Linked DNA regions of Homo sapiens. The protein of the gene in region 1 purifies or fractionates together with the protein of each later gene. This does not show direct contact. Each region holds a gene or a part of one and is shown on either strand. Other genes may lie near its edges. The genes, in order: APMAP and INTU.

Evidence for each region.
Region 2: the proteins of APMAP (region 1) and INTU purify together in Homo sapiens (affinity purification with mass spectrometry; one large-scale study listed by BioGRID and IntAct). This does not show direct contact.

What each region holds. Positions count from the first base shown.
Region 1 is NC_000020.11:24,968,745-24,972,566, reverse strand, and holds part of APMAP (adipocyte plasma membrane-associated protein), read left to right. Parts: intron 1-990; coding exon 991-1,107; intron 1,108-2,195; coding exon 2,196-2,370; intron 2,371-2,906; coding exon 2,907-3,041; intron 3,042-3,482; coding exon 3,483-3,675; intron 3,676-3,822. UniProt on the Homo sapiens protein: Exhibits strong arylesterase activity with beta-naphthyl acetate and phenyl acetate. May play a role in adipocyte differentiation.
Region 2 is NC_000004.12:127,635,635-127,639,456, forward strand, and holds part of INTU (protein inturned), read left to right. Parts: intron 1-3,822. UniProt on the Homo sapiens protein: Plays a key role in ciliogenesis and embryonic development.

The DNA.
Region 1 (3,822 bases):
CAGTGAGGACCCCACAGTGAACACCTTGCAATAAGCATCTGCAGTGAACACCCCACAGTGAACTCCCTGCAGTAAGCCCCTGCGGTGAGCACCCCACAGTGACCACCCTGCAATAACACCCTGCAATAAGCGCCTGCAGTGAGCACTCCACTTGAACACCCTGCAGTAAGCACCTGCAGTGAGTACCTCACAGTGAACACCCTGCAATAAGCACCTGCAGTGAGCACCCCACAGTGAACATCTTGCAATAAGCCCCTGTGGTGAGCACCCCACAGTGAACACCCTGCAATAACACCCTGCAATAAGCACCTGCAGTGAGCACTCCACTTGAACACCCTGCAGTAAGCACCTGCAGTGAGTACCTCACAGTGAACACCCTGCAATAAGCACCTGCAGTGAGCACCCCACAGTGAACACCTTGCAATAAGCACCTGCAATGAGCACCCCACAGTGAACACCCTGCAATAACCACCTGCAGTGAGCACCCCACAGTGAACACCCTACAATAAGCACCTGCAGTGAGCACTCTACACAAACACCCTGCAGTAAGCACCTGTAGTGAGCACCCCACAGTGAACACCCTGCAGTAAGCACCTGCAGTGAGCACCCTGCAATAAGCACCTGCAGTGAGTACCCCACAGTGAACACCCTGCAATAAGCACCTGCAGTGAGCACCTCACAGTGAACACCCTGCAATAAGCAACTGTAGTGAGCACCCTGCAATAAGCACCTGCAGTGAACACCCCACAGTGAACACCCTGCAGTAAGCACCTACAGTAAGCACCCTGCAGTGAGCACCCCACAATGAACACCTTGCAATAAGCACCTGCAGTGAGCACCTGCAGGGCAGTTGTAGCTCTAATGCCATGGTCTTGTCTTGTTCTGTACAGCATGATGTATGGGAAGGGATGGATGAGATGCTTGGATACTGAGAACAGCACATGTAGAATCCGGGACCAGCTACCAATCCCCATCTGTTTGTTTTTCTAGAAACCCGAGATGATGAGCCTGTGTGTGGGAGACCCCTGGGTATCCGTGCAGGGCCCAATGGGACTCTCTTTGTGGCCGATGCATACAAGGGACTATTTGAAGTAAATCCCTGGAAACGTATGTGACAATATCTCGTTTCCTTCTATGAAGATTTTAGATCTTTTAAACAATATATGTATGTGTAGACTTAATAGGATTTGTTAGCAACAGTCTACTAAAGACTCTGATATTTCTTATTCACTGAACAGTACTGAAAACATTGCCTGCAAAAGTCAGCTAGTTTTAAACACCAGAAAACTCCCTACCCATGATTCCATTTGGTCCGTATCCTAATTTCCTCCTAGTATTTATATTTTAGCCACAGGGTCTCAAAAGGACTTATTTTGAGGAAGTTAGACCTCTTTCTGTCTTGATTTTTCTGTGTGTCTCTCTGCGTCTTGTCTATTTGTTTTCTCTCTTTCTTCTCTGTGGCCCTCCCCTTTGTCTCTTCCTTTCTGTTTTCTCCTGTAGTTCCTCCTCTTCTCTCCCCTGATTGCTCATGAGTCCCCTTGATCAGGCTGTAATACGTGCTGTGTGTCTCAGTGGAGGTTCCTGCTGGGGAGGAGTCCGTTGTCTTGTGCGTGGGGGCCCGAACATAGGCCCTGCAGCCCAGCTGCTTGGGGGCATTCCACTCTGCTGGCCACCAGCTGTGACTGCAGGTCCCTTAGTTGCTCTCTGCCCAGCTTCCTCATCAAATTGGGGTCATAGTAGCCCTGCCTGTGGGATTGTTGCGAGGGTTTAAAGGCGATCACACCTCGAGAGTGCTTAGCACTCAATCCATGTTCTTTCTATTATTTTTCAAAACTTACTACTACTTTTCTTTTCTAAAAGGAGATGAGTAGAATGTCATATTTCTCTCAAATAGAACTAACAAATAGAACTGAAGCCTGCCTAACACTTGCAGTAGATGTTATCAAGTCAGTTGGCCTTAGTAAAAGAAGGAATTCCTCATCCTTATAGAAAAGATTCTGCCTTTAATGAAATTAGTCTAAAAAAATCATTTAACACCTAATACTGTTTTTACTATAAGAAGGAATAAATCTTCTGACAAATGACATGGAGAAGTTTCAGTTTTTCTTTTTAAATCAGTTAGGTTGGTTAATATTTTGCAATTATTGAGAAGTTCCTAGTTCAAGTCAATCTTTTTCTTTCTTTTTAAACTTCAGGTGAAGTGAAACTGCTGCTGTCCTCCGAGACACCCATTGAGGGGAAGAACATGTCCTTTGTGAATGATCTTACAGTCACTCAGGATGGGAGGAAGATTTATTTCACCGATTCTAGCAGCAAATGGCAAAGACGAGACTACCTGCTTCTGGTGATGGAGGGCACAGATGACGGGCGGTGAGGCCTTGCTCCAGGTCTCCCATTTGTTGAGTTCACCAGCCAGGCCAGTTGCTTCAGCAGAGCCTGTTACTTCTAGGGACCAAGGGAGTATTTCCAGCATCATATTTCAGCTTCTAGGACAGGACCTTAGTGGCTTCTGGAGGCAGGTGATGGATGTCACAAAATGGAACAAGGTGCTTTCGTTTTCTCTGAGGAAATAAAACAGGCCAGTCCGTCTGAGGGTGCAAGTCTAGGCAGTCGAGAGAGACCCCGGAGGCAGGCCTGGGCTTTGGGTTGCCTCTCTGAGGGGTATTCCTGTCCAGCTCCCAGGTGAGCAAGATAACTGACCTTGGGGTTCCCTGGAGGGGACACTGGATCTGCTGTGGATGGGGAAGGGCCCCCAGGGGCCAGCCTCGAATCAAGTTTGAGCAGGGCACCCAGGGCCTGTTGCTCCGGGGTGAGGCGGAGTCACCTTCTTCAGGCCCATACCCTGAAGGCCCAGAGTGGGAGCCAGGGATTCTCCCCCATAACCCTCTGCTTTTGGTGTTCCACAGCCTGCTGGAGTATGATACTGTGACCAGGGAAGTAAAAGTTTTATTGGACCAGCTGCGGTTCCCGAATGGAGTCCAGCTGTCTCCTGCAGAAGACTTTGTCCTGGTGGCAGAAACAACCATGGCCAGGATACGAAGGTGTGTGTGGGATTAGCTGAGCCATCAGTTACTGGCCAGAGCGCATCATGGCCGGGGTGGGGTGGGCATGGAAATGGGATCGACAGAAATCAGAGGCAGCAGCGCACCTTCTGCATGGCATGTTAAAGAAAATTCAAGGGTGCGCTTTCTTTCTCCCATTGCGAGTCGCAGTCCGGAAGAGTGTCTTAAGGCTGACTGGTGCAGCCCGGGCCCCATTCCCCTGCTGGCAGGGCCTTGGTCCTCCCCTGACCTACTTCCCCTCTGTTCATACTGGGCCCTGTGCACAAAGGTTTCTTCTCAGCAGCTGAGCCTTTGTTCATGATGGTCATAGAGCACTTTCCATATATATATTTGGACCAAGACCAGTTTGGTGCTTGGCTAAAATTTTTTTTCTGAAATTGAGGGGCTATGGTTCACTCTCTGCTTGGGTGAATTTTTCAGAGTCTACGTTTCTGGCCTGATGAAGGGCGGGGCTGATCTGTTTGTGGAGAACATGCCTGGATTTCCAGACAACATCCGGCCCAGCAGCTCTGGGGGGTACTGGGTGGGCATGTCGACCATCCGCCCTAACCCTGGGTTTTCCATGCTGGATTTCTTATCTGAGAGACCCTGGATTAAAAGGATGATTTTTAAGGTAACTGTGAAAACTGTTATTCCAAGAAAGAAAATGGAAATGAATTGAATCATATTTTTTTGACCCTTATAGCTTAAAAATCTAGTTCTGCTTGTAGTATTTGGCTCTGAATGACACTTAGAAACACATTTCATTCTTCATCCTGAA
Region 2 (3,822 bases), on another chromosome or scaffold:
AAATTTTTTTCTGGGACTTTAAAAATAGCTTCATTGAAGGATAATTTATATACAAAAAACTGCACATATTTTTAATGTACAATTTGATGTTTTAACATGTATACGTCTGTCAAGAAAATGAACATATCCATCTCGCCTAAGAGTCTCCCCATGTACCTACTTAAGTCCATTTATGCCTCTCCTGATAACCATTTATCTGCTTTTTGTCACTCTATAGGAGTTTGTAGTTTCTAAAGTTTCATAAAGATGGAATTGTGCAGTATGAATGTTCTTTTTTGTCTGCCTTCTTTTATTCAGCATAATTACTTTGAGATTCATCCATGTTGTTGCCCCCATTAATAGTTCATCTCTCGGCTAGGTATGGTGGCTCATACCTGTAATCCTGCTTTTGGGAGCCAACGCAGGAGCATTGCTTGACACCAGGAGTCAGAAACCAGCCTCGGAAACATAGTGAGACCCCCATCTCTAAAATAAAAAATAAAAAAATTAGCCAGGCATGATGGTATGTGCCTATAGTCCTGCAACTTGGGAGGCTGAGGCGGGAGGATCACTTAAGCTCAGGGTTTCAAGGTTGCAGTGAGCTGTGATCACACCATTGCACCCCAGTCTGGGTGACAGCAAAATTTTGTCTGAAGAAAAAAAAAGTTCTTTTTTTTGGTACAGTGAAGCCCTATCACCATTGTACACTAAAGACCTATTCTGAGCTGGGCTCACACCTGTAATCCCAGCACTTTGGAAGGCCGAGGCGGGCAGATCACCTGAGGTCACGAGTTCGAGACCAGCCTGGCCAATATGGTGAAACCCCATCTCTACTAAAGATACAAAAAATTAGCCGGGCATGGTGGTGTCCACCTGTAATTCCAGCTACTCGGGAGGCTGAGCCAAGAGAATCACTTGAACACAGAAGGCGGAGGTTGCAGTGAGCCGAGATCGCACCATTGCATTGCAGCCTGGGTGACAAAGTGAGACACACCATCTCAAAAAAAAAAAAAAAAAAATCTGTACAGCAAAGCCCTAACACAAAATATTTTGCTGGTCTGTGATTTTTGTTCTGCCAGAGTTACATCATATCCCCAACTCAATGATGTGTAGAAATGCTGACTTTCCTCTCTTTCTTGAATTTTTAACATGGGAACATACTAGTTGTGAAGAATCAAAATATTTCATTTAGACTCATGATGCCATACTGTTAACATCCAATTTAGGATAATATTTCCTACTTTTTCTTCTGCTCTGAACCCTGACTCCTTTTTACTTTTAATTTAATACAGATTAAAAAGGCACATGGTATATAACTAGGTTTATGATGAAAAATGGTATTACCCTGCTGTCATCTCTACTTCCAGCTCAGTGTGTGAAGATAATTCATTGTCTTCCATTTCTCCTCTAAGGCTACCCATCTCATTTACTGACATCATTATCTCCTTACTCTTGTCTTCAGATCTGATGTCTCCAGTACTATTGACTTCCTTCTCTGGTTTTCTCTTCTCCATTCTCACAGGCACTGCCTTACTTAAAAGGTTGCCTCTTGCCTCTTGCCTGTTTCCCATGCACCAGTGGAGTTGCCTCCTAACTAATCTGCATGCTTCTGATTTCTCCTGTCTGTGGTCTTTCTTCCATACCACTGCCAGTTTGCTTTCTAAAACACAGTTCTAAATCATTTTTCTACTCTACTCAAAAGTTTGGTGGCCTTCCAAATAAATTCTAGGTTCCTTAGGATGATTTTTAAATTTTAGATCTGTCCCAAGTCTTTCTTGTCTCATTTCTATTGATCTCCCTGTTCATTATTGAAAATGATTATCCACTTATTCTCAAATTGACCACTTGCTTTCACACCTACACCTTTATGTACTTTGTTGTCTCTGTTTGAAATACCCTTTCTTCCTATCTCTACTTGTCAAAATCATTCAAGGTCCCACTTAAGTTCTACCTTCTCCTAGAATCTTTTCTGGTCTCTCTTAGACTATCTCTCCATCCTGTACTCTAGTCCTATAGCAGTCTTTATTCCTGAGTGTTGGCACTTGCATTTCAGCCATTTGATTCTCTGTCCCATCTGACATCTTTAAAAGTACAGTAAAGTCCTATCAGAAAATGTTTTGTTGATGTATGACTTTTGTCCTGCCAGGGTTAGATTGTATCACTAATTTAGTGATGCATAGGAATGCCCTGTTTAGCTGAGGGGGCAGGTGGTAGGAAATGTGACCCGGGGAATGAAGTCACTATTAGATGTGTTCCTGATGTAGAAATGTATTACCTGCAGTGAATGAACAGTTATGCATTTATTGACTGATCCCTTTGCCTTCTTTGACATGCTTAACAGTTATTCTAATGTTGCTTAGCAAGAAGAGCTTCAGCTCATCTGAGACTCCCTACCCCTAAGCTGCTATATCATCCAGCATACATGTTAATGATTGAAATTCATGGTGTTCCTTTAGTAAATGATCAGAAGACCATCAAGAGTGAAAATCAGATATTGTTGGTAGACAGAACACAGAAAAGAAAACACAGAAAAGCATAGGCAGGCAAGTGCTTACTGAATAAGTGCCGGATAGAATCCATATTAATTTGTCACAGTGTTTTTATTGTGTGTGGTTTTTCTCTGTTCCTAGAATTGTCCTGTTATACCTATTAGCACCACATAACTATATGTGTTGACCACTTCGGTAAAGTGCATTGTGCTTTGCCCACTAAGAAAAAAAGAAAAAAGTATACTATAACAGATTTGGAATAGTAGCAAGTGTTTATTTTCCTTAACTAAGGAAATGTGCCAGTGGGGCTGGCTGTTTTATAACTCCTTTCTTGTGGTAGTTAAGGAAATTGCTGTACTATTGCAAATGATGAAAAATGCTGGCATTAATGCAAATAAAGACCTGAGAGATTCAAATAACTATTAGAGGGGTATTAAAAGATGTAGTGTTGACCTAGATATTTTTGAATACGTCAGGAATGAGACAATTATTAGCATTATCTGAAGTTCATTTTCTTTAATATATTTATGTTACAGCTTATGCAAGTGAACTTGCTTATTTGCAAATTAACAAGTCTTTCTTTGGGAAGAAGGGCTCTACTCCTGTTTACCACATCATTTAGGGCCTTGAATACCAATTAAAATGCCCTAAAACGTTGCTGGCAGGCTATAAACATACACTTATTCTGCTTAAAGCAAAGCAGAATAAACAAAATAAGACTCATTGAAAGAAAATTGAAAAACATTTACACAATAATTATGCAGCTTGTACTATAAGGTCTTAGAAAATTTTGAAGGCGTATTTATATTAGTGCTGAAATATGACCCATGTACTACAAAGATCTGAATTAAAACTGCTAGATTTAATTCCTTCCATTAATTTTCTTTTTATTTTTGAGTAAGTTTAGATTTACACAAGAGTTCCAAAGATAGTACAGACTTCCCATAAATCCTTCACCCACTTTCCCCTGATGTTAACATCTTACACAACTATTATGCATTTGTCAAAACAAGACATGAATATTGGTCATTTCTGTTAACTAAACTCCAAACTTTATTTGGCTTTCACCACTCTTCCATTAATGTTCTTTTTCTATTCCAGGATTCAATCCAGAATATTGTATTGTCTGCTTAGTCTCCTCTGGTCTGTAACAATATCTTAGTCCTTTCCTGTTTTTCATTACCTTGATCACTTGGTTATGTAAGGTAGTGTCTGCCAGGTCTCTTCCCTGGAAAGTTACTATCTTTCTCTTTCCATACTCTGTTCTCTGGAAGAGTATAGTCACTAAGTCTATACTCAAGGGGAGGAGGGATTAAACTTCATCTCCTGGAGTGGGGATTATCTATATGTATTG